Homo sapiens: one gene and its partners. The protein of the gene in region 4 interacts with the protein of the main gene of each other region in a biochemical or structural test. Each region holds a gene or a part of one and is shown on either strand. Other genes may lie near its edges. The genes, in order: PDCD6, CAND1, KBTBD13, CUL3, RCBTB2, DCUN1D5 and CDC34.

Region 1 (2,915 bases), on a different chromosome or scaffold from region 4:
AGAGGCTGCAGCCCCAAAACCAGACGCATCACTGTGGAAGGGAAGCGTCTGGAGAATGAGGCTGGGCCTCGGGAGTGTCAACCCAGGAGGGCCGGCGCTGCACAGTGAGGCAGGGAGGCGGACCGGGCAGCGCTGGCAGTGGACCGAGGTGAGCAGGATGCGCTGGGTGGACAAACGCTGCAGGCCACGTGCAGAGACTGCAGGGCACAGCATGGCTAAATCATTAATGATGGAAATGCACAACCTGCTATACCAAATTGGATTTCTTCATCCAAAAGGAGCAGTCTTATGAAATTTAACCTCCTGAACAGAGGGTGAGACAGTCCCTCTGGATTTTCACAAGCAGAGCTGTGCACGCTGGGCTGGACAATGTTCCAGAAGGTGCCCGGTACCCTGGGAGGTCCCAGGCAAGCCAGAACATCTGACACTGACTGTCTGGAGGACCAGGGCACGGGGCCTGGTTCTTGGACCTATTTGATTTGAAAAGCTGAAGGCAGACCACACGTCTAACATTCCCTTTATTGCTTACGTCACATATTCCAATGAATACAATAAACTCCTTTTTAAAAAAGTAAGGCACATGAAAAGCCTTTTGTGTAAGTTCCATGTTATTTTAAAATTCCTATTGGCTAATAAAAGCATTTGCACTATAGAACCAGAGACATCTAGAAAAGCACATGATAGATTTTTTTGCAAGCAGAATGCCTGAAACATTACATTTACCTCATGGCACAATGAGACAGTCACCAAATCCAATGTCTGCATTAGAACGATACAGCTACTATTACAGTTGCAAAACCATTAATCAGCTTATCCACATATGTACAGCTGGGTCCCCACGTGACAAAATCTAAAGGAAGAACAGCATCTAACTGCACCTGTGCTCCATTCCCTCACAGATAGGAACTGTGACATTTTGGCTCTTTCCATGTTGTGCTGCTCTTCACGAGAGGCCAGGGTCATACGATACTGAAGACCATGGACAGGTACTGTTCGTACGACACCTGAATCCAGCCGTCCTGATCCGTGTCGTAACGTCTGAATATATCCGTCAACCTCTGGGGAGAAAACAGGCATTTAAATCTCGATAGTAAATGGAAGGAGCAAGGTGCACTGGGACAAAGGCATGTAGGGACCCAATTTCAGAAGCACACACGTCTTCTGGGCTCCCTGATGGAGCCCAGCACAGGGAGGCGCAGGTGGGGCTGGAGCTGTTCACACGGACGGTGGGAGTGCGAAGAACGAAGAACACAGGGCTGCGGGGCTGGCTCCGGACATCCAGCCCTGGCTGAGCCCCTGGCTGAGCCCCTGACCCCAGGCTCTGGTCTCCTGAGTCTCCTGGGGGCCTGGGCCCTTCCTTCTCCCCCTGAAGACCGTCCCGTGGAAGCCCTCCACCCTCCAGTGGCTCGCCTCTGCTGTGGGGGCCACCTGGGGCATGTGCAGCGCAGGGGATGCCCAGCCAGATGGGCTTGTGACATCACGAGGGCTTCAGGTTCCTCCAGCCCAGCCCACCCCTCCCTCTCACAGCCGAGGGTCCAGGCCAGGTCAGCGGCAGAGACAGGGTGACCACCTACACTCCTGAAACAGGGATGGTTAAGTAAGTGACACTTCAACCGTAAAATACCCTGAAGATTCAGGCCAGCATGGTGACTCTCGCCTGTGATCCCAGCACTTTGGGGGTCCGAGGCGTGAGGATCGCTTGAGCCTGAGGGTCGAGGCTGCAGTGAGCCGTGTTCGCACCACCACACTCTGGCCTGGGTGATGGAGCAAGGGTCTGTCTCAAGAAAGAAGAAGAAAATGTGGCAGGGAAGACACAGCGTCCTCGCACATCAAGACCTGCAGGAACATGGACAGGGTGTGGTGACTCTCGCCTGGGATCCCAGCTACTCAGGAGGCCAAGGCAGAAGGATCGCTTGAGCCTCAGGGTCAAGGCTGCAGTGAGCTGTTTACACCACCACATTCCAGCTGGGGTGACAAGAGTGAGACTCCATCTCAAAGAAAAAAAAACAACCCTGCAGGAATGCCACAGCCACCACCGGGCTCCTTGACTTGGCAGAGGCTACGGCCTCACCCAACTCCAAAAGCACCGCAATGGATAATGCTGGCTTAAAGAGTAATGGGTAATTTTTCTTTCTATTTTGAATACTTTGTGTTTTTCTAGGGTTTCTAGAAGTGTTCATGTTATTTGTTAGAAAATAATTTTCAAAAAGCCTTTATCCTTTCAGAAAAAGCAGATAAATAAAAACGTTTTTGAGGGAATTTTAACTTGAGGTCTGCAGCTTTCTTTTCTTTCCCATTCCCCATCTGTCTAGCGTTTAGGGTCACTCTCCAAGGGTGGGGACAGCCTGGGAATTGGCTGTCAGGCCCTCCCCACGTGGTCTGGAGCAGGGCCTTGAGGAGGCATCTCCCAGGAGGAGCTACGCTGGCTGCAGATGTGCCTTGGAAGGCGCTGGAGAGGTCGCTGTGAGGCCGCCTGTGTTACTCCAGCTACCGAAAGCTCACACAAGATCAACGTTAACTTATAGAACATAACCTCAAATGAAGATCTGAGCCCTACGGCAATTCAGACACAGAACCTCAAATGAAGATCTGAGCCCTACGGCAATTCAGACACAGAACGAGATTTTACACGGCATCTTTTCCCTTTTTCTTTTCTTTCTTTTTTAAGACAGGGTCTGGCTCTGTCACCCAGGCTGGAGTGCAGTGGTGTGATCTCGGCTCACTGAAACCTCCACCTCCCGGGTTCAAGTGATTCTCCTGCCTCAGCCTCCTGAGTAGCTGGGACTACAGGCATGCGACACCAGGCCCAGCCTACACTTTTTTGAAAGTGTTCAGAGAACATTGTAAAAATGTCATCCAACCTGGCAGGAACCCCGAGAGGCAGGGGCAGGAAAGGGTCCCCAACCGTAGAGTTT
Region 2 (3,500 bases), on a different chromosome or scaffold from region 4:
ATTTACTCTTTTAGGTATGGTGCTAAGGGCACAGATCTCAATACATTTTATAAAACACTACTCAAGAGCATATGGAAATTATCACACCCAAGAGTTGACTGTTAGGTTGGATCTCAAAGGATGAACAGGGGTTTGCATGGGAAAAATTGGTTTGGAATTTAAATTACTTTTTTTTTTTTTTTTGGTGGTGGGGAAGGACAGAGCACCTCAGAGTGAAGGACTAAGGAAACAGTTCAGTATGTGGAGCACAGAAACCTAATAGGAAGATGATGGGAATATAGGCTGAGGTCAAAATGGGAATGGCGTTATATACTCATACACTGTGTAATAAGAACCTACTACATATCAGGTACTGTACTAGTTTTTGCTGATATAAGGGCTAACCAAAGCACACACAATTCTTGCTGTCTTGGAGCTTACATTGCAGTCTAGTAAAAGGCATATTAACTTTTTAAATTGCATGTATGAGTAAGCACCTGTAGAACTAAGAACTAAGATAAATGCTATGAAGGAAAGTGTTATCAAGAAAACACTATGGGGCCAGGTGCCAGTGGCTCACGCCTGTAATCCCAGCACTTTGGGAGGCCAAGGCAGGCAGATCTCCTGAGGTCAGGAGTTCGACACCAGCCTGGCCAACATGGTGAAACCCTGTCTCTACTAAAATTACAAAAATTAGCTGGGTGTGGTGGTGTACACCTGTAATCTCACCTACTTGGGAGGCTAAGGCAGGAGAATCGCTTGAACCTGGGACACAGAGGTTGCAGTGAGCCGAGATTGAGCCACTGCACTACAGCCTAGGTGACAGAGTGAGATTCATCCCAAAACAAGAAAGCACTATCATATAAACAAAGTAACATGACCTAGACTGAACTGCGGGTTGTGTCAGGAAAGACTGATCTGAAGAGTAGGAGCTGGGCATGGTGGCTCACACCTGTAATCCCAGCACTTTGGGAGACCTAGGCAGGTGGAGGTCAGGAGTTCCAAACCAGCCTGGACAACATGGTGAAACCCCGTCTCTACCAAAAATACAAAATTAGCCAGGCATGGTAGTACATGCCTGTAATCCCACCTATTTGGGAGGCTGAGGCAGGGGAAATGCTTGAACCTGGGCGGCAGTCGCTTGAAGCCGGGCAGTGGAGGTTGCAGTGAGTCAAGATCACGTCACTGCACCCCAGCCTGAGCAAAAGAGTGACACTCTGTCTCAAAAATAAATAAAGAGTAGGCAAAATTACGGTGAAGCAGGAGGAAGTTAGTGCCAGGTAAGCAAGGGCCAGGAATTTAAAGGATTTGTAGACCATATCAGGATTTTAGCCTTTATTCTAAGAGAGTGGGAAGCTACTGAAAAACAACTGGGTTACAGATGGGGAATAAATGCAATGATCAGATTTACATTTCAGAAACATTACTCCAGCTATACTGTGGACCATACTTTGGAGAGAACAAATCTTCATTTGGCCATACTGAATGGAGACTAGTTAGGAGAATGACTAAGTTAGAAATTATGATGGCCTGACTTAGGTTATGGCAATCAATGAAGATGGAAAAAAAAATGACATACAGTTGATTCTCATTATTCCCAGGTTCCATATTTGCAAATTCACCTACTCATTAACATTTATTTGTAAAGCAAAATTAATGCTTCCTATTTCACAGTCATTTGGATGAGTGTCGAGTGGTGAAAATTTTGAGTAATCCAACACATACATTCCCAGCTGTGGTGGCACAAAGCAACACTCTGCCTTCTAGCTCCAGCTCTCATGTTGTAAACAAGCATCTTCTTCTTGGCCTATTTCAGCCCATGTTTTTCACATGTTTGTGCTTTTTCTTGGCGCTCTTGTTGTTTAATATGGCCTCCAAGCACAGTGCTGAAATGCTGTCTAGCATTCCTAAGTGCAAGAAGGCTATAATGTGCCTTCTGAAAAAAACATATGTGTTAGATAAGCTTCTTTATTGGCTGTGAATTCAATGTTAATAAATCAGCAATATATATTAAGACAACTTTAAAAGAAACACTCATAAAACGAGGTTACAAACTCATCAACTGATTAAAATAATGTGACTCAGGACTCAGAGAAACTAATTCCATAATTCCCTCAGAAGCAATGGTTCAGTACTTGCTAACTCAGTGTTTGTGATAATGTTACAAAACATACTACAAATAATGAGAACTAGTTGGTTTGAATTTTACAAACTAAAATTAATAGTTCTTCAAAATGGATTAGATATAGGGATGGTAAGGATGAGCTAGCAGGAAAGAAGTAAAAGGAAAACCACAAGACTGGGTAATACAGTCAGCTAACATATCCTTGTCCAGAGTCTTAATGTTACCCTGCAGCCATTGTCACATCAGATGAATAAACTGCTCATCTTACAACAGAAGAAAGGATTAACTTTGGTTAAACTGCAAACTACATGGAATGGATATTCCTCTGATCTTAACAAAATCTCCGCCATAGTGAAGATGTGAAAATCAAAAATTAATGTCCTGCAGCCCAACTTTGTCTACCCTTGGCCAAAAGTGGGCACTGATAAAGAAAAAAACAGCAGCCTCCACATTCCAGAAACTTATCTGAGACTCATAACTAAACCTCAGTGTTATTACTAACCGATCTGATGCTTAACAGCTAAGGCATATTGTTTTCTTGGACATAAACAATCTCACAGAACATCCATTTCGGACAAGGTCCCTGAGCAATACAAAATACCAAACATTCCCCTCTCCAGTTAAATGAGTGACTGATACTTCTTTACCAACTACAGCTTTCCCCCTGCTTAGGTCAGCCCTCCCTGTAAAATTTATTAAGAGGCCGAATCATAGAATTGACCTCACTTTCTGACAACACTCAACCTAAAGCAAGGCTTCACTTCCTTAGACTCTTTCCCAAATTACCCAAATGAATAGGTTCCTTCTAACATCCTCTGATACCCTAAAGTGTGTGTTTTCCCTGACTATTACGGACAAAAACCCAACTCGTGTCAGGATGCCCATATAAGAGAATTCCAAGAAGGAAAAAGTGATTTAAAAAAATATACCAAATAGATGAGCAAAGAAAATATCCACTAAATGAGTTATATTAGGAGACTAGGGAGACTGTTGGGGATTTTAGGAGAGCAGTCTCTACGAATTCAGATGGGCAACAGCTAAGAAATCTGGAGTTTATCTTGTAGTCAATGGAAATTAGTGAGGGAGGCAATGATCAGCTGCAGTATATAGGAAGAAAATTCTAATGGCCAGAGGGAACAAACTGGGTTAGGAAGAGGCCTGAGACAGCAAGATTAATTTGAGAAATACTCATCAGGAGACTAAAGAAGACAGACGGGAGAAGGGTGATATCAAAGATTTTCTGCTTGTGACTTTCAGTGGATGGTAATTTAACAGGCCAAAATAAGGATAAAGAAGGCATTAAGACGGGAAAAGAAAAAGATAAATGTTTACGTTTCAGACTTCAATGGAATTCCCAGGTTGATATGACCTGTAGGCAGTGCCATCTCATTCCTTT
Region 3 (4,255 bases), on a different chromosome or scaffold from region 4:
CTCTGTAGCCTGGGTTCTTTCAAGGCATCATCATTTTAATCTGGGACAGGGAAGTCCCCCAGCTCACTTAACAGGATCTCTGCCCTTACAATCCACACACGTGGTTGTGCACACACAATGATGTTACAGCCAGGGGTCCAATGAGCAATGCAGGCAGCCCAGGTCAGGAAAACGAAGAGCTGGGTGAGCCAATGCTGCACAGAGGATGGTAGAGCACTGACAGGGAGAGAGGAGGAGACTAGGCATTCCAGCCCAGGGAATTGCAAAGGGCAGAATAGGACAGGAAGAGAACAAACCTGTAGAATGTGGAGGAGGGGCTACAACTGAGGAAGATGAGGCAGGATTTGGCTCATACCTCAACTGACCTGAAGTCATGTGGGTTAACAGTCCACTGCCCCGTGGTGATGGCAAAAACAGGGTGGGCAAGGGCTTACACCTGGGTGCTCCCCTAAGGGTTCCAAAAAGGAACGTGAAGAATCCTCTCGCCCCCACAGGTCTCACTCCAGGCTCAGCTCAGTCATTATCTGCTGCAAGCTGGCCCAGTCTCATCCCCTCTCTAGATGCCCCAACTACTGCTGCTCTGCTGGTATGGCTGGACTTGCAGAGACCCTCCCCATCTGCTCCAGCCTTCCCCAACCCTGCTTCTCTTCTGAGCTCTCAGCCTCCATGGTCTAAGCCTCCCCTTTCAGCAGCTAATGGTATCCTGCTCATCTCCTCCATAGAGTTTGCACACTCTCTTCTTTTCTGGAGTTATATATTTTTTCTCTTCCTATTTTCCCTTTGCCCTGATTTCTTCAGCACTTTATTTTATTATATTGTATGCGGTTTTAAATTTTTTTGCATGTTGCCTTCAACTCTGTGGATCAAGTTGTGTGTAAACCTTTTTGTTGTCCTGTAACTGTTAAGATTGTTTTCTGGGTTATCCTTTAAGCTTCCTGGATCCCTGTGTGGCAACTACGGCTCTCATTACGCATAACACTGTATTGGGCATACAGTAGGTGCCTAATTCTTGCCTACTACTTGCAGTTTGATTAACATCATTTAAGTCGCTCCCAGCGATGCTCAATCACTAGCCCATTACATATAAGCCCGGATTATTCAAATCCCAACTCCCCCTACCCTGTTCACTGACATTGTGACCCACCAGCTCTCAGCAGAGCCCAAGTAATTTGAGGGCATCATCACTGCTCCCTGAGCTTCTTGAACATGTCCACACCACCAGAAGGCACCAAACCTGGGTGTCTCAGTAGAAAGAGGGAAGTTGCCAGCTACTTCTAAGGCCGGCCTCACACACTCAGCCATAGCTCAGGGAGGAGTCGCGGCGTCTCCTCCCTCCTAAAGCCAGCCCAGAGGTCACAGTTCTGCCGTTGTCGAAGTCACAGGCCCAGGAGCGCCAGGAGGCAGCCTTAGGAGAAAGGTCTGCAAGGAGCCGGGCCGCGGGAAGCCGGCTTTCTCCCTGAGCAGCCGCCAGGTGCCGCCCTCGATGGCGTAGAGCAGCGTGAACATGCGGTTGACCGTATAGACGGTGTCACCGCGCACCACGGCCGTGAAGAGCGCTCCCTTGCTGTTGACGAACTGGCCGGGCAGCGCCGTCCACTGGCCCGTGGCCAGGTTGAGACAGTCGATGGCGCAGTGCAGGAAGTCGTCGGAAGGTCCGTTGCGCACCACATAGAGGCTGTCGCGGTGGGCCACCATGCAGTGGCCATAGCTCTGCGGACGCCGCAGCTCGGCCACTGGCAGCCACGCGTCGGTCCGCACTGCGTACTCCACCACGGCGGTGGTGTCGGCCGGCCGCCACAGGCACACGAAGAGACGGCCACAAGCCTGGGCGCAGGGCACGCCGGCGGCCGGCTGCGGCAGGTCGGCCACGAAACTCCAGCAGCCCGCGGCTGGGTCGTAGCGCTCCACGGAGCTGATGGGCGTCCTCTGGAATTCGCCGCCGATGGCGTAGAGGCGGCCGTCGAAGCCGGCCAGCGCTGTGTCATAGCGCGGCTGGTGCGGGCTGGGGAACTCGTGCCACGTGCCGCCGTCGGGGTCGTAGCAGAAGCCCAGCTCTACCACCTCCTTGCTGGCGCCGCGCACGCCCCCCACGATGTAAAGCTTGTTGCCCAGCGTGGCCACCCCGGCCAGCAACGTGCTGGCCTCCAGGGGCAGCGCAGCCAGCGTGCGCCACGCGTCCTCTTCCTCGTCCAGGTAACACAGCGTGCGCGAGGCGTCCTCCAGGAAGCCGGGCGCGGGCGTGTGCGTGCTCACGGCCGCGTAGCTGCTGGGCCGCAGGGCCGCCACGTAGGCGCGGGCCTCAGGCAGCGCCAGTTCGGCCGCCAGCTCGCGCTCGCCGTCGCAGATGAAGAGCGCGGCACTGTGGAACACGTCGCGCAGGCCGAAGGCGGCGGCCGCGTCGCACAGCAATGCGCAGTTGTCCGACGTGAGGTTGTGCTCCAGAAAGCGAGCCAGCGCCGGCGCCTGGAGGAAGGCGGCGCACTCCACGGCCTGCAGCAGCTCGTCCTCCGCCGCCAGCGCCGGCCGGTCGCCGCGCAGCACCTGCAGCGTGGCGCGGAAACCTCCCGCGCTCAGAACGCCCAGGCGCACCTCTGCTGCGCGGGTCTCCCGCATGCCGGAGCGGAAGAGGCCTCGGAAGAAGCCACAGTGCTCCACCAGCAGGGCGCGGTCGGCTTGGAAGAGCTGGCCGCCCACCCACACCTGCACCAGGGTCTGTGGACCCCGTGCCATGGCGAGCTGGCCGGGCGGAGGCTGCCGCTGGGGCCTTGGGTTAGCCAGCCACCAACTCTGGGGCTCCCCTGGAGCAAAAAACTTCCCTGGGGGCTATAAATATCTCTCCCTGGCTAAAGATAGTATGGCTCATGTGATGTGGTGGCCCGCAGGCTGTATGGCTGCAGGCCCGGAGGGCATCTGGAGACCTGTGTGATCACTCATATCCTTAGAAGAAATGGTAATAATGGGTCCAGAATTGGTGGGTTCTTGGTCTGACTTCAAGAATGAAGCCGCGGACCCTCGAGGTGAGTGTTACAGCTCTTAAGGTAGCGTGTCTGGAGTCTGTCCTTTCTGATGTTCAGATGTGTTTGGAGTTTCTTCCTTCTGGTGGGTTCATGGTCTCGCTGGCTCAGGAGTGAAGCTGCAGACCTTCGCTGTGAGTGTTACAGCTCTTAAGGCAGCGTGTCTGGAGTTGTTCGTTCCTCCCAGTGGGCTTGTGGTCTCGCTGGCCTCAGGAGTGAAGCTGCAGACTTTCACGGTGAGTGTTACAGCTCATAAAAGCAGTGTGGACCCAAAAGAGTGAGCAGCAGCAAGATTTATTGCAAAGAGGAAAAGAATAAAGCGTCCACAGTGTGGAAGGGGATATGAGCGGGTTGCCACTGCTGGCTCGGGTAGCCTGCGTTTATTCTCTTATCTGGCCCCACTCACATCCTGCTGATTGGTAGAGCCAAGTGGCCTGTTTTGACAGGGCGCTGATTGGTGGGTTTACAATCCCTGAGCTAGATACAAAAGTTCTCCACGTCCCCATCAGATTAGTTAGATACAGAGTTTCCACATACAGGTTCTCCAAGGCCCCACCAGAGCAGCTAGATACAGAGTGTCGACTGGTGCACTCACAAACCTTGAACTAAACTCAGGGTGCTGATTGGTGTGTTTACAAACCTTGAGCTAGATACAGAGTGCCGATTGGTGTATTTACAATCCCTGAGCTAGACATAAAGGTTTTCCAAGGCCCCACCAGAGCAGCTAGATACAGAGTGTTGATTGGTGCACTCACAAACCCTGAGCTAGACACAGGGTGCTGATTGGTGTGTTTACAAACCTTGAGCTAGATACAGAGTGCCAATTGGTGTATTTACAATCCCTGAGCTAGACATAAAGGTTCTCCAGGGCCCCACCAGAGCAGCTAGATACAGAGTGTCAATTGGTGCACTCACAAACCCTGAGCTAGACACAGGGTGCTGATTAGTGTGTTTACAAACCTTGAGCTAGATACAGAGTGCCGATTGGTGTATTCACAATCCCTGAGCTAGACATAAAGACTCTCCACGTCCCCACCAGACTCAGGAGCCCAGCTGGCTTCACCTAGTGGATCCTGCACCAGGGCTGCAGGTGGAGTTGCCTGCCAGTCCTGCACCATGCGCTCGCATTCCTCAGCCCTTGGGTGGTTGATGGGACTGGGCACCGTGGAGCAGGGGGTAGTGCTCGTCGGGGAGGCTCGGGCCGCACAGGAGCCCATGGAGTGGATGGGAGGCTCAGGCAT
Region 4 (3,500 bases):
AGGCAGGAGAATGGCATGAACCTGGGAGGCAGAGCTTGCAGTGAGCTGAGATCCCACCACTGCACTCCAGCCTGGGCGACAGAGCAAGACTTCGTCTCAAAAAAAAAAAAAGATACCTCTGAACTTCATTTCATAGTGCTATCTGCATCTAATAATCAATCCAATTTATCCTCCATTCACAGTGAGAAAACTGTTTTTCATTTTCTGATTTATGAGAATTTGGCTTCATAATGGTGAAGTTGGCTCTGCTATATTCTCAACAAGAGCAACATTTTTTCCAAGAGCAGGGCCTACCACAATTAGGATATTTTGCCACCAGGTTTCTAGCGGAAGCTCAGAAAAATTAACCCCCCCACCTTTTTTTTCTTAAGACAGGATCTCCCTCTGTAGCCCAGGCTGGAGTGCAGTGGCATCATCTTGGTTCACTGCAGCCTTGACCTCCCCAGCCAGATTCAAATGATCCTCTCACCTCAACCTCCCAAGTGGCTGGGACTAGGCATGTGCCATCATGCCCAGCTAATTTTTGTATTTTTCATAGAGACAGGGTTTCACCAATTTGCCCAGGTTGGTCTTAAACTCCTGAGCTCAAGCGATCCACCTGCTTCAGCCTCCCAAAAATACTGAGATTACAGGCGTTTGCCACCCTGCCTGGACAAAAGCAGGATTTTAAAATTTAATTTAGAATCACAGATAGCTACTGTGTTGTTGGAAACCTAAGGTACTAAATAAAGGAGAACTCTGGTGAGTACTATTATGGTATTCCTTCATTCACGTAAGTGCTCGCCATGATAGGCATACCTGACACCTTTTACATACATCTCCACACAGGTTACAGAGATGCTGTAATTCAGGTATGCCCAACAACCTCTCCATCAAACATTTCCTATCCCCTAAGGTAGGTAAGAAAGCATTCATTCAATACCTAAACAGTACATTACATAATTTATCAATACTCATTTTGTTTAAGCAGGGCAAATGCTTTGCATAAAGTCCCAGTCTACCAGAGACCACTTAGAGAAGGGTCATCGAATTAGAACCCGTGGGGCAAATACAGCCTGCCATCTATTTATGTACAGCTCATGAACTAAGGATGGTTTTCACATTTTTAATGGCTGAGGAAAAACTGTAAAGAATGCTATTTAGTGACACATAAAAATTATATGAAATTCAAGTTTCAGGGCCCATAAATAAAGTCTTATAGAAACACAGGATTATTCATTTGTTATTGTCTAGGACTATTTTCTCACTATGACTGCGTGGCTCACAAGCCATTTTATTCAACAACAAAAAAGCTTGCCAACCCCTGACTTGGACCTCAATTTTAGAAAACACAGCAAATATACTAGATGACTTCTGTTTTTTTTTTTTTTTTGGCTTTTACAAAAAAGGTTTAACTGAAGAGTCTTTTAAAAAGGAAGCCTCTCTAGTTTTTTTTGTTTTTTTTTTGTTTTTTTAAATTACATATAACTTTTCAGGGATTTCTCATATATACAAACATTTAACAATTTTAAAACACAAGGTAAGGATTCCACTAGAGATAAACATGGCTCAACTTCCCACCAGCTTTCGTTTTCCTTTCTCTTGTATCCTCCTTCTCTTTATAATTCTCCTTTAAAAAATTTTTTCATTCCCTACATAGCTCATGACCCCAACAGGCAATATGTATTTCTTTTACTAAAAAGAAGTGGATAAAATATTGCTTAGATTTCGTCTAGGAAGCAGGAGAACAAAGTACCATGTTTTTTATTTCCTAATACCATATAAGTGGTAAAGGCAAAGTTTTAAAACAAAGCATCAGAAACTAAGAATAGAGGATATGGTTATTGTTCTTTTAACTTGTAATTTCTTCTAGGATACTTGTCACAATTTTTCTTTTACCCCAGGAAAATAAATAGCTATAAAAAACAAATGTTAGTTATCTCAAAAATGTTCTTTACTTTTATGCACTCCTCCTTCCTCCTTTTCCATTCTGTAACTTCAGTGTTCCCCAAACCAATCTAATTTATCTAAGTATGTCAATATGGAAGACACAAATATTTTTGCATTTTCAGCACCCTGTCACAACTAAATCCCAAAGGAAAGTCTACAAAAATCTTAAGGTGGAAACTTAAGGTTTTAAGAGAATCACAAAACCCCAAGAGAGTATGTAGGACTAAAGAGAGCCCACACCCTTTGGTATACAGGAAGTACAGGAATGAATGAGGAGCTCACTGGGCTCACCAATACTATTACACCTTTTATCTTCTGGATTAAATGTAAAATGAGACTTAAAGACAGGAAATGCTCAATTCATTAGAAATATCTAAAATCTTCGTTAGTAAGACAGAATCAAGCTTGGAAATCCCATTAAAGTTAACAATGGAGACAAATTAACAATACACACCAAAACTTCTTGAAAGCTGATATTATCTGCTTTAATTGTAGGAAAATTTTAAAAATATCGATAAGGCAGAGTAAGGATTTAATTATTTTTCAATCGGTAACACTTACCTTCTGTCTTTCCATTTTTCAACATATGTACTAGCCCAGAATTCTCCATTTCTACTATAGTCTTCATGTGCTTGGAAATGAGTTCCCTTTCAACCACCTTTACAATTGGTTCTTCCGTTGATTTGTCAAGGCAGTGCATCACTCGTTCTATTTCTTCATTAATTCTAGCTTCTACTTTCTTTATATATACTGAAGCACTATTTTCTGCTAAAAATTTCTGGCTTTCCATCTGCCATTTAAAAATATATATATTTTTTAAACATAGAAGAAAAGAGTGTTTTTGCTTTTAGCTGGGTTTCTACAGTGTTTATAATAAATCAGCCTAAATAAAATAAGTACTATTAGCATTTTGTGTAATTTCTCATTACACGAAAGACTGATATAGTCTGAATTATATCCTTTAAAGCCTTTGGTATTTACATAATACTAAATTAAAACATTATCTGTAAGCAATGTTTTTCAAACTGTGCCAATGTACTCCAAAAAATAGCAGAACAAGTATATACACGCCAGTGAGGGTCAAAAGCTTAGAAGCATCTGACTCCAAGATACAGTGGGACATTCTTTTTTGATTTGTTTTAATGTAAAATTATAACCAGAAAGATTCATCATGTTTATCATAAGCTTTGCTGGCATACTGCTGGTTAATTAAGTCTTCCAGTGCCATCCCACTCCCAGTCTCAAAGAGTAAACATGTACACTAAAGTTTGAAAATAAGAGCTTTTAAATAACTATTCATCTTTTTTTTCTTTTTTTTTTTGAGACAGAGTCTCGCTCTGTCACCCAGGCTAGAGTGCAGTGGCGCGATCTCAGCTCACTGCAAGCTCCACCTCCCGGGTCCACACCATTCTCCTGCCTCAGCCTCCCGAGTAGCTGGGACTACAGGCGCCCGCCACCACGCCCGGCTAATTTTTTTGTATTTTTAGTAGAAATGGGGTTTCACCGTGTTAGCCAGGATGGTCTCAATCTCCTGATATAGTGATCCACTCGTCTCAGCCTCCCAAAGTGCT
Region 5 (3,500 bases), on a different chromosome or scaffold from region 4:
ACTAAAATGTCTCTGTTTTCTTTGACCAAAGGAGAGGATATCCTTATACCAAAAGGAAACTGACTCGAAGATGTTACAGCCTGTTTCCTAAAGATTTGGTTCTAAGATTGGTTTTCTTTCCTTTCTTTATTATCATAACAATACATGGTCACTGTAAAAGTTAAAAAAAAATAAGCAAAGAGAAGAAAATAAAAATCACCCACAATCCCACCATTCAATGATAACCACTAAGCATAGTTTTCAGTCTTTTTTTCTATGTAGATAATGAATTTTAGTTTTTTATTCAGCTATTTATACTTTTTCAAAAAATAAAAATAGGATAAGTTTTTCACTTAGTGATATATCTTGAATAGCTGCATAATTTCTTGATATTAACATTTTATAAACAAGCCTCCACTATTCACACTAACCTTTTTCTGATTTTTCAAAATTATAAACTGCTGAAGTAAACACCTTTGAAGCTAAGTCTTTGTGCAAATCCATGATTAATTCCTCAAGATAAATACTTGTGAGTGAATTCCTTGAAGAATTATGTCTTTAATTTAAGGTGCTTAATACATATTATACCAAATTGTTCTCCATACCAATTTGTACTCTCATCAGCAGTTTAGGAGAACACCATTATTCTGATCCTATACATTATCTCTAAAAATATATTCCTGCTTTGACAGGTGAAAAGTTATACCTTGTTTTCATTTATGTTTTTTGTCTATTTATAGAGCCATTTGTTCTTTGGTCCATTTCTTTCAACCAAACTGTTCCTATTGTCTTTTTGTTTTTCACTCTGGTAAACAGACTTCATTATATGTTGCAAGTATTTTTCCCAGTGTCTCATTACTTTGTAAGTTTCTCTATGGTATTTTTAAGTGGATAAAAGTTTCTTATCTTTTTAAATCAGAGCTATAAATCCTTTATGGCTTCTGCCTTTGATGTCCATCCCAACATTATATAAATACTTGCTTATACGTTGTCTAGTACTCTTGTTACTTCATTTTTTAAAAAATATTAAATATTTCCTCTACCCAGACTTTCTTTTAGTTTAAGGTACGAGGCAGACACCTGGGTTCCATTTCTCCAGGAGGCCGGCAGCTGGAAGCAAGCTTTCCTTACCTGTGCATCATACTTCACCGCAGCCGAGAGCAGAGCGATGGCATTCTCCTCGCAGATGCCTTGCTTGATAGTTTGTTGGCAGAGCTTTTTCAAACGATTTTCTCTATAAAATGTAGCCAAGTCTAGCAGTCCTGGCGGAAAGAGGTGTTTATTAGGGGGAGTGATTTCAAGCATCCTGATTTACAGTTGCTCACTCAGCCACTCAGAGATGATTTTGACACTATTTTAGATATAATCCTCAGTGAAGCACTGCATAGACTGATGCTGACTGACACTTACACTTCAGTGTGGGGCTCTACCCAGGATGGCAGCCAAGCTGAGCAAACATGATACACAAATCATTAGCTGTTGAAAAACAGGAGCACAGGGAAAATAGCTTTAATATTTTTTTCCTAGGAAAAAAGCATGTGCGCCTTGAATGACCCCTTCCCCTGCAATCTCAATGTCAGCTTCTCCTGGGCCACTCCCAGGAGCACACACACATGCTGTAAGAGTGCCCGCCGTGAAAAGAAAGAAAAGAAAAGAAGAAAAGAAAACAAAAGAGAAGAAAAGAAGAGAGGACAGGAGAGGGAGGGGAGGGGAAGGGAGGGGAGAAGAGAAGAGGGGAGGGGAGAGGAGGGGAGGGGAGAGGAGGGGAGGGGAGAGGAGGAGAGGGGAGAGGAGGGGAGGGGAGACCCTTTCATGGACACGTGTCTTCCTCCTGTTACCCTATCCCACTGCTCCTCTCTACAGCAAAACTCCTAGACAGAGCTATCTGTATCTGCTGTCTCCATTTTCCCACCTCCCATTCTGACCTCAAGCCATTACAAGCAGAACCCCATCCCCACCACTACTGCAGTCACACCCTTGGTGGTCACACCTGTGGCAGTCACAGTGGCTTTGAGGGTGCAATATTCTCTGGTTTCCTCTTACTCGACATTTACACAGAATTTGATATGGTTGATAATGCTCTCCTTAGGACACTTTGTCACTTGCTTGCATTTTTCTTCTCTTTAATTAGTTGCTCCTCAGTTCTCTAGGCTGGATCATTTTTCCTGACTTCCAAATGTTTGAGTGCCCCAGGGTTAAATCCTCAGACACTTTCCTCACTTACTTCCCAAAACCCCAGCCCCAGGGTTTTAAATATCATCTATATATGCAGGTGAGTCCTGTTATATTACCTGTCACCTATTTTCAAGTAATTCAACGTAGACTGGGTGAGGTGACATATGTAAATTAATTTTAATCTACCCCAAGGAATGATAGGAAGTACTCTAATTGAAGCAGTCAATCAGCATCTGAAAGATCCTATTTGTTTTTCTGAATCTTCATTACAGGATTTGTAATTAGCATAAAGAATGTCAGAATTAGTTTGTCATTGCTGAAATGAGTGGTAGCCAGGATCAAAAGGCTAGCTGAATCCGGCTACTAGAACACTGTCATGTCCACCTCAAGCTAACTTTTCATGCAAGGTACTTAATAGAGTGTACGAAGTATAAAGAGCAGGGATTTCATCAATTTTACCATATTAATTGTTTTTGTGTCTATCTGCTAATAAATCTTATACATGTGGTAGACTTTGGTTGGAAACTTGCTTTTTTAATAACAAATATTATCAAAGTTATAGAGGAAAGACAGATAGCCCACTGGAGGACACTGAAATCTTGAGTTGTGAATGGCTTCATTGTTTTTGGCCCCAAGCTTCAGACACACATGCAAGCTGCACTGCCCTAAGAGAGGACTCTGCCCCAAGCCCCAGCTCTGCGCCTCCTCCACGCACACCTTCAGCACAGGGTGGCTAAGGAGCCACATGCCCACTTCTAGACCACACTTTGGGTACCTGGGAACCTGGGACTGCCTGCATAATTGGCCTTGAGGCCACATGTGTGGGTATTTCCTCCCTTAGACCCCACCACCAATGTGCAGACCCCCTGGCCCAAAAGGGTAACCTGGGTTGGGGGTGGATAGAGCTTGGAATGCAAGCTAGGGTGCCCACACACCCTTCTGCTGGAGGAGGGGTCTGTCCTGCCTGTGCCATTGGGTTCTGGCACAAGAAGTCCTGCAACTCTAAATGTCAACTAAAATTGAAACCTGTCCTTTCAGTTCTTAATGAAATTACATTTTTCAAGGTGGGAGGATTGGACATATTTTTATCTGAAGTTCACTAGCTTGACATATAACTTTAAGTTTTTAGACATATGGAACATAGGTCTCCATTTGGAGTCTTGGCTACAGCCCCACAAATGTTAGTGGTGGGCCGATAAAAAACTGCCACTCGCGGCCGGGCGCAGTGGCTCACGCCTGTAATCCCAGCACTTTGGGAGGCCAAGATGGGCGGATCACCTGAGGTCGGGAGTTCAAGACCAGCCTGACCAACACGGAGAAACCTCGTTTCTACTAAAAATACAAAA
Region 6 (3,500 bases), on a different chromosome or scaffold from region 4:
AATTCTATAACTTATGAAAATGTTCAAAGACAGGATCCTAAACTGAAAGTGTAGGACTATAAAATGGGTAAAGATTGCACGGGAGCAGTTACAACATTTCTACTTTTGTCCTTTATGAAATTCACTTGGCAATAAAGAAATCATAAAAGGGTTATGTAACTCTATCTTCAAATTTTTAAAGTCAAATATTAAAGTGAAGAAGGGAGAGGAGGCCCTAGAGCTTAGGGCTGCCCAACGAACATACTCCTTCGATAGTAGAATTCTGTATTGAGAGAGGAAAATCCTTATACTCAAACAACCTGTAAATAAATAGGTCTTTGATCATAGACTTTTAAGTCACTCACCAAGAGAATCAAGGAATTTTAATAGGACTGTACTAAGGTTCTTTCTTAGAGAATATAAAACATGGGGTACCTATATATTTGCCCAAGACCACAATATAATTTTTTCAATCCCCAAACTAATTGTTATAGATCAAACAGATTTGATTTAAGGTGAAACCTTACTCCTGAAAATTATGAAGCACAAAATATCAATTAAGATCTTCAAATAGGCCATCAAATTTGTTTTTTAAAAAAATTTCTTACTGTAATGAAGTCATTCCCTTTAACCATTCTTCCTTGGTAAAAAATCCCATGCTTTCAGCCTCCAATTTCCACGCTAAAACTAACATAATAATCTGGAAAGAACAGAACATAAAGGATAGGGGAAAAGTCAGCATAGAGATAATCATGTCTATATTTATCATGGAGAGCATTTTTACACAACTACTTCCATCCTTCAACTATTAAAGAGTACAACCTCTGGAATTATTAACTATATACAAAGAAATTGAGATGTGCCAATTTCTTAAAAGTAAAAAGTTCTAACAGTTTCTGAAGGTAGAATCTCTTATTCTATTACATATAACATTTGTATCAAGAAAGAATACATTTGCCCAACTTAAACTGATTAAAAATACCTTAAATGCAAATTTACAATATTAAACATGAAGAAATAAAATCTTCATACAAGATTAAAGTGTCTCGATTTTTAGTAATTTACGAATATGCTATACCCCACTTATATGCCATTCTACTTAGAAATAAAACATACATTTTCAGGTTCAACACCAATGTCTTCACAAAATTTTTCCATTCCTTCTGGCCCTACAACTTCATCAGGACCTTCAAAGACAAAAATAATTAACATATTTTGTTATAATATCAACATAAAACATAAATCGTCATGCTAAAGGTACCCATGAACACACCATAATATTTTGCAAATAATTAAATTTGAATTTTGGCATAGCTTTGATAAGTATAAATATTTGCTACAGGATTTAAAATTTAAAATTTGTGAAGTATTCTTTGAACACCAGATTACAATATGAAATTAAGAAAATTTAAAAAGCAGCAAAGAAATACTCCATTAGTATCAATCACAAGTTAGTACAAAAACTCAAACCAATCCATTAAAAAAAAAATTCACTGAGAGCCTACTCTGAATAAAATTTTTGACAATGCATGAATATGAAAAAACATAAGGCAGCTGGAGCTTCTTAATCTACTGGAATATCAGAACCAACACAAAGTTCAATACAGTAATCAGAAGGGGAATATATTTACCTATAAAACAGGCCATTTATTACCCTTTTGAAATACACTCAAATATAATTTAATTATTGAAAAAGACAAAGGTATTTTGAAAATAATGACTTATGGAAATTACTACATTCCATTTCCAGAAAGAGCTATTTTCCTTATCATCTTGGTTCTAAAACAGACAGCAAGCATTGATGTCACCTTAATGTAGAAACAGAAGTTTAATCTTTCAATTAGTTAGTGTCTATCATTCATCCAAAAATTAATTACTGGCATTTAACTTGTTCCTTATTTTACACCCTTAGCAACATTAATAAATCAATACATCAATTATCATTTTTTCAAAATGTTATCAGATTCCCAAAATATAGTAATTACATCATCACTAGGTCTCTTTTGTGACTGGATAAGAATAAAACAAATTTTGTAATAATATGAGAAATGTGTTTACCACTATGGGATTTTGAAAATATAATCTTGAGATATTATTCTTAAGAGTCAAGAGAAGCCTCTATTTTCCTTTTTCAAGGATGAAAATCCTCCAGCTTTATAAACCATAGACTAGACCAAGGCTGCTCAGGTAAATTTGACAGCACCATATTTAGGTTACTAGCACAACATAAAGTCAATACATTCTTGCTGCCTGAGATCCAAGCTGCTAAGATGACATTAATACTGGTCTGAAGCCAAAACCCTTTTTAATTTTTTTGTGTAACATGTTAAGTGTTATTAGGTTTAAATAAGTACTAACAATGCACTCGTGTTAAAAGGTGAAGGGGGTGATTAATTATAGGGCACTTTCTCTTCCTTTACATATTTGGAGAATTGTTTAAATGAGAATGTGTTAATTTTATAACTTAAAAGGCATACATATACAATAAAGGTGTTAAAATGCATAAATGAGTATGTATTCTTATATATGATTGAAAGAAAACAAAAATCAGATTTGAAAATTTAAGAGGCCCAGGCGCGGTGGCTCATGCCTGTAATCTTGGCACTTTGGGAGGCCGAGGTGGGATTATCACTTGAGCCCAAGAGTTCCAGACAAACCTGCACAACACAGGGAGACCCCATCTCTAGGGAAAAAAAAAATAGCCTTGTGTGGTGGTGCCAGTCTGTGGTCCCAGCTACTCAGGAGACTGAGGTGGGAGCATTGCTTGAGCCCAGGAGTTTGAGGCTGCAATGAGCCATGATCACGCCATTGTACTCCAGCCTGGGAGAGAGCAAGGCCCTGTCTCAAAAAAAAATAAAAAATAAAAAATTAAGGGAAAAGACAAACGGTTTTTTTAAAAGCCACGATGTAAATATATTGTAAATTTTTCTAAAGCATCAAGAAAACATACTTGCTCTCAAAGTTGCCATTAGTGATTCAAAGAGAAAGCTTTAGAGGATGTCTAGAAACATCAGCATAAGCTAGGAGCAGTGGCTCACGCCTGTAATCTCAGCACTTTGGGAGGCCGAGGCAGATGGATTACGAGGTCAGGATTTCAAGACCAGCCTGGCCAAGATGGTGAAACCCTGTCTCTACTAAAACTACAAAAATTAGCCAGACGTGGTGGCAGGTGCCTGTAATCCCAGCTACGCAGGAGGCTGAGGCAGGAGAATCACTTAACCTAGGTGGCAGAGGTTGCAGTGAGCCGAGATTGCGCCACTGCACTCCAGCGTAGGTGACAGAGCGAGACTCTGTCTCAAAAAATATAAAAAATAAAAAAGAAATATCAGTATAGCCCCCCTAGAAACTGGAGGATTACTTGGTGATTACTAATTAAAATTTGGTTAGAAGCAAGTCAAATGAGATTACATAGAGATATAATACCTTATAACTTAGATAAGGTCTGTAAATGTTAACTGACTTTGCCAAAGTGATGTAAATAGTAACAGATCTAAGTCTAAAGCGAGGTCTGTAACTAATGT
Region 7 (3,500 bases), on a different chromosome or scaffold from region 4:
ACCAGGCCAAGAGCCTGCAGGGACGCACTCCAGACATGAGTAAGGCCAACACCCCTGACTAACAGTCAGTCACTGGGCACACACAGCACGACCCCATTTTTTCATTAAAGCACAGACACATGTTCCCTAACAGTCAGTCACTGGGCACACACAGCACGACCCCATTTCTTCATTAAGGCACAGACACATGTTCCCTAACAGTCAGTCACTGGGCACACACAGCACGACCCCATTTCTTCATTAAAGCACAGACATGCGTTAAACTGAAAAGCCTGGAAGAATCTATGAAAACACTAACCACCAGGCCAGGTGCAGTGGCTCACGCCTGTCATCCCAGCACTTTGGGAGGCCGAGGCGGGTGGATCACCTGAGGTCAGGAGTTTGAGACCAGCCTGGCTAAGATGGTGAAATCCCACCTCTACTAAAAATTACAAAAATTAGCTCGGCGTGGTAGTGGGCACCTGTAATCCCAGCTGCTTGGCAGGATGAAGGGGGAGAACTGCTCCAACCCGAGTAGTGGAGGCTGCAGTGAGCCGAGATCGCACCACTGCACTGCAGCCTAGGCAAGAGAGTATAACTCTGTCTCCAAAAAAAAAAAAAAAAAAAAAGGCCGGCCGCGGTGGCTCACGCCTGTAATCCCTGCACTTTGGGAGGCCGAGGCAGATGGATCACGAGGTCAGGAGATCGAGACCATCCTGGCTAACACGCTGAAACCCCGTCTCTACTAAAAATACAAAAAATTAGCCGGGCGTGGTGACGGGCGCCTGTAGTCCCAGCTACTTGGGAGGCTGAGGCAGGAGAATGGCGTGAACCCGGGAGGCGGAGCTTGCAGTGAGCCGAGATCGCGCCACTGCACTCCAGCCTGGGTGACAGAGAGAGACTCTGTCTCAAACAAAAAAAAAGAGGAAAAGGGGCAAGAAGCTGGGCTTGAACCTGGCTGGACCCTCCGCCACTCGGCCCGGCCTCCATCTGTGACTGGCACCCTGTAAATGGGCACCAGGAAGCTCCGCCACCCTCACCAGGAAGGTGGGGCTGGGCGGCCGTGGGACCAGGGGCCGGGGTGCAGGCCGGATCTGAGTCTCTCCTCCCGTGACGCCCCCGCCCGCCCTCACCGGATGATGTCTGTGTACTCCCGATCCTTCCCCTTGCTCTCTTTCCACTTCCTGTACATCACGGAGGCGTCCACGTTTGCGGGCGAGAAGGTGTTGGGCTCGTTCAGGAGGGAGATCACACTCAGGAGAATGGTCCTGTGGGGAGAGTGGGTCGGAGTGGGGCGGCCCGGGGCACCCCAGCCTTCCGGCTCTTCTCTGGCCCTGAGGGTCACGGGGACGCCTGGACCCACCCAGCAGGTGACCTTCACCTGGCCTCATGGCCTCTGCTTCTGTCTCAGGCCCCCAGAACAGCAGGGGCTGGACCTGCATCAGTCTCCTCCCTCCCACGCCAAGACCAGGGAGGGCAGCAAGGTGCAGACCCCTCCGTCAGACCCGGGGCTGCCCTCACACCCGCACGTCCTGCCTAGACTACACTCCAGGACACACGGGCAACACGGCCCAGTGCTTGTACCTGGGGACGAGGCCCAGGCGGCACACGTGGCACGAGGTGACCAACCCAGAGACGGCTGGGTAAGGAGAAGGCCCCAGGACTGAGGATGGCGGGACACCTCTAGGTGGTTCCAGACGGTGGGGCCGGCCTGGGGTCCTGGTGGGAGTCTGCACCGACACACGGTGCCGCAGGCCCCGTGAAAGCACCTACCGTGCAGGTACAGCGAGGCCCAGGACCGCCAGCTGGCAGGTCCCGAATCAGGCCTTGGCGCCACAGCCTGTGGGGGAGCCCGGCCTACCTGATGGTCTGGGTGGATACGGGACGGAGCCCGGCCTACCTGATGTTCTGGGTGGACACAGGGGGTTGGGCCGGCTTACCTGACGTTCTGCGTGGGGTTCCACCTCTCTGAGGGCAGCTCCCCGCTCTGGGGGTCGTCCACCGGCGGGTGGAGGATGGAGATACACACGTCCCCCGTCTGCACAAGAAGAAGACAGGTCAGAACAGGTCAGAGGTCAGCACGGGCTCCCAGTGCCCCAGGTCCCGGAGGATGAGGACGTGGAGGACGAGGACGTGAGGCTCCCAGCGCCCCGGGTCCCGGAAGGACGAGGACATGAGGCTCCCAGCGCCTCGGGTCCCGGAAGGACGAGGACGTGAGGCTCCCAGCGCCCCGGGTCCCGGAGGACGAGGACGTGAGGCTCCCAGCGCCCCGGGTCCCGGAAGGATGAGGACGTGAGGCTCCCAGCACCCTGGGTCCCGGAGGATGAGGACTTGAGGCCCGTGGGGGCCGCGCTCACCTCGTAGATGTTAGGGTGCCACATCTTGGTCAGGAACCGAAAGGCTGGTGGAGAGTATGGGTAGTCGATGGGGAACTTGAGGCGCGCCTGCAGGGGCAGAAGGCAGGTGGCTCAGTCCAGCCCAGCCCCAAGACCTGCCCCAGCTCACAAGGTGCCCAAGGCCATCCCACTCCCAGTGCTGGTGCCTGAGGGTGTGTGTGAGGGACACCGTATCCTGCCCAAGGCAGGGACTCTCACAGGCCTGGGGTCAAGTCCCCAGAAGGCTGCCTGAAGCCTTTTCTGAGTCACCCGAGCTGATCCCAGCTCCTACACAGTCCAGGTGGCCGGGACCCGGCCCAGCACAACTGCTGGGGAACGTGGGCACTGGCTGCCCGCGTGGCTCCAGGCCCGTGGCAGCCCAGGTCAGGCATATGGGACCCAGGCCAGGGGCACCCACCAGCAGACAGAATGGACTGGCAGGGGCTCCAGGCTCCCCTTGGATGGAGCTGAAGCCCAGGACCAGGGCTGCACCTCCAGGGCCTTGGCAGCCAGGGTGTGGGGAGGGTTAGCACAGATGATTGCTCAGTTAGCAAACACTTGTGACACCTGCCCTGGCCCAGGCCGTGGGAGGGGATGAGTCAGTATGGCCGTCTGCCCTCAGGTGTCCGGTCTTGGGGGGTCAGGCAGGCAGACCCATAGGTCACAGAAACCTGGCAGGACTCCTTCCCTGTCAGCATCGCCCCCTGTGGTCACCCAGGCCCTGGAGGTCCAGATCTGCTGGCAAGGACGGCCACAGAGGGAGGCCTGAAGCCACGTGCCAGGTGACAGAGCTGTCTGGCCTGCAGCCTGGGGCGTGATGCCACCCACGGCCCTCCTGGGCCACAGCAGGTAAACAAGGAAGCCTCACTGTTTTCCTGCTGGGCCCCAGTGCCAGACACAGAGGTTGTCTGGGTCAGGGGTCCTGGTGGCACTCAGCACTCCAAGGCACGAGAGCAGCACCCCCAGAGCGATCGTGGTGGAAGCCTGGACAGGGAGGGCACTCAGGGGGTCTTGGATCGTGGGCGAGGTCTGGACAGGGAGGGCACTCAGGGGGTCTTGGATCGTGGGCGAGGTCTGGACAGGGAGGGCACTCGGGGGTCTTGGATCATGGGCGAGGTCTGGACAGGGAGGGCACTCGGGGGTCTT

The links.
Region 1: the proteins of CUL3 (region 4) and PDCD6 form a complex in vitro, tested with the Homo sapiens proteins (one study listed by BioGRID).
Region 2: the proteins of CUL3 (region 4) and CAND1 form a complex in vitro, tested with the Homo sapiens proteins (one study listed by BioGRID).
Region 3: the proteins of CUL3 (region 4) and KBTBD13 form a complex in vitro, tested with the Homo sapiens proteins (one study listed by IntAct).
Region 5: the proteins of CUL3 (region 4) and RCBTB2 form a complex in vitro, tested with the Homo sapiens proteins (one study listed by BioGRID).
Region 6: the proteins of CUL3 (region 4) and DCUN1D5 form a complex in vitro, tested with the Homo sapiens proteins (2 studies listed by BioGRID, with this or other methods).
Region 7: the proteins of CUL3 (region 4) and CDC34 form a complex in vitro, tested with the Homo sapiens proteins (one study listed by BioGRID).

Annotation. Positions count from the first base shown.
Region 1 is NC_000005.10:312,560-315,474, reverse strand, and holds the end of PDCD6 (programmed cell death protein 6), read right to left. Parts: intron 1,059-2,915; coding exon 960-1,058; 3' UTR 501-959; downstream 1-500. UniProt on the Homo sapiens protein: Calcium sensor that plays a key role in processes such as endoplasmic reticulum (ER)-Golgi vesicular transport, endosomal biogenesis or membrane repair.
Region 2 is NC_000012.12:67,275,858-67,279,357, reverse strand, and holds part of CAND1 (cullin-associated NEDD8-dissociated protein 1), read right to left. Parts: intron 1-3,500. UniProt on the Homo sapiens protein: Key assembly factor of SCF (SKP1-CUL1-F-box protein) E3 ubiquitin ligase complexes that promotes the exchange of the substrate-recognition F-box subunit in SCF complexes, thereby playing a key role in the cellular repertoire of SCF complexes.
Region 3 is NC_000015.10:65,075,291-65,079,545, reverse strand, and holds the start of KBTBD13 (kelch repeat and BTB domain-containing protein 13), read right to left. Parts: upstream 2,801-4,255; 5' UTR 2,731-2,800; coding exon 1,354-2,730; 3' UTR 1-1,353. UniProt on the Homo sapiens protein: Substrate-specific adapter of a BCR (BTB-CUL3-RBX1) E3 ubiquitin ligase complex.
Region 4 is NC_000002.12:224,508,864-224,512,363, forward strand, and holds part of CUL3 (cullin-3), read right to left. Parts: intron 2,720-3,500; coding exon 2,491-2,719; intron 1-2,490. UniProt on the Homo sapiens protein: Core component of multiple cullin-RING-based BCR (BTB-CUL3-RBX1) E3 ubiquitin-protein ligase complexes which mediate the ubiquitination and subsequent proteasomal degradation of target proteins.
Region 5 is NC_000013.11:48,495,081-48,498,580, forward strand, and holds part of RCBTB2 (RCC1 and BTB domain-containing protein 2), read right to left. Parts: intron 1,242-3,500; coding exon 1,111-1,241; intron 1-1,110.
Region 6 is NC_000011.10:103,082,161-103,085,660, forward strand, and holds part of DCUN1D5 (DCN1-like protein 5), read right to left. Parts: intron 1,167-3,500; coding exon 1,096-1,166; intron 680-1,095; coding exon 588-679; intron 1-587. UniProt on the Homo sapiens protein: Contributes to the neddylation of all cullins by transferring NEDD8 from N-terminally acetylated NEDD8-conjugating E2s enzyme to different cullin C-terminal domain-RBX complexes which is necessary for the activation of cullin-RING E3 ubiquitin ligases (CRLs).
Region 7 is NC_000019.10:534,760-538,259, reverse strand, and holds part of CDC34 (ubiquitin-conjugating enzyme E2 R1), read right to left. Parts: intron 2,424-3,500; coding exon 2,337-2,423; intron 2,018-2,336; coding exon 1,920-2,017; intron 1,248-1,919; coding exon 1,113-1,247; intron 1-1,112. UniProt on the Homo sapiens protein: E2 ubiquitin-conjugating enzyme that accepts ubiquitin from an E1 ubiquitin-activating protein, and catalyzes its covalent attachment to other proteins by an E3 ubiquitin-protein ligase complex. In vitro catalyzes 'Lys-48'-linked polyubiquitination.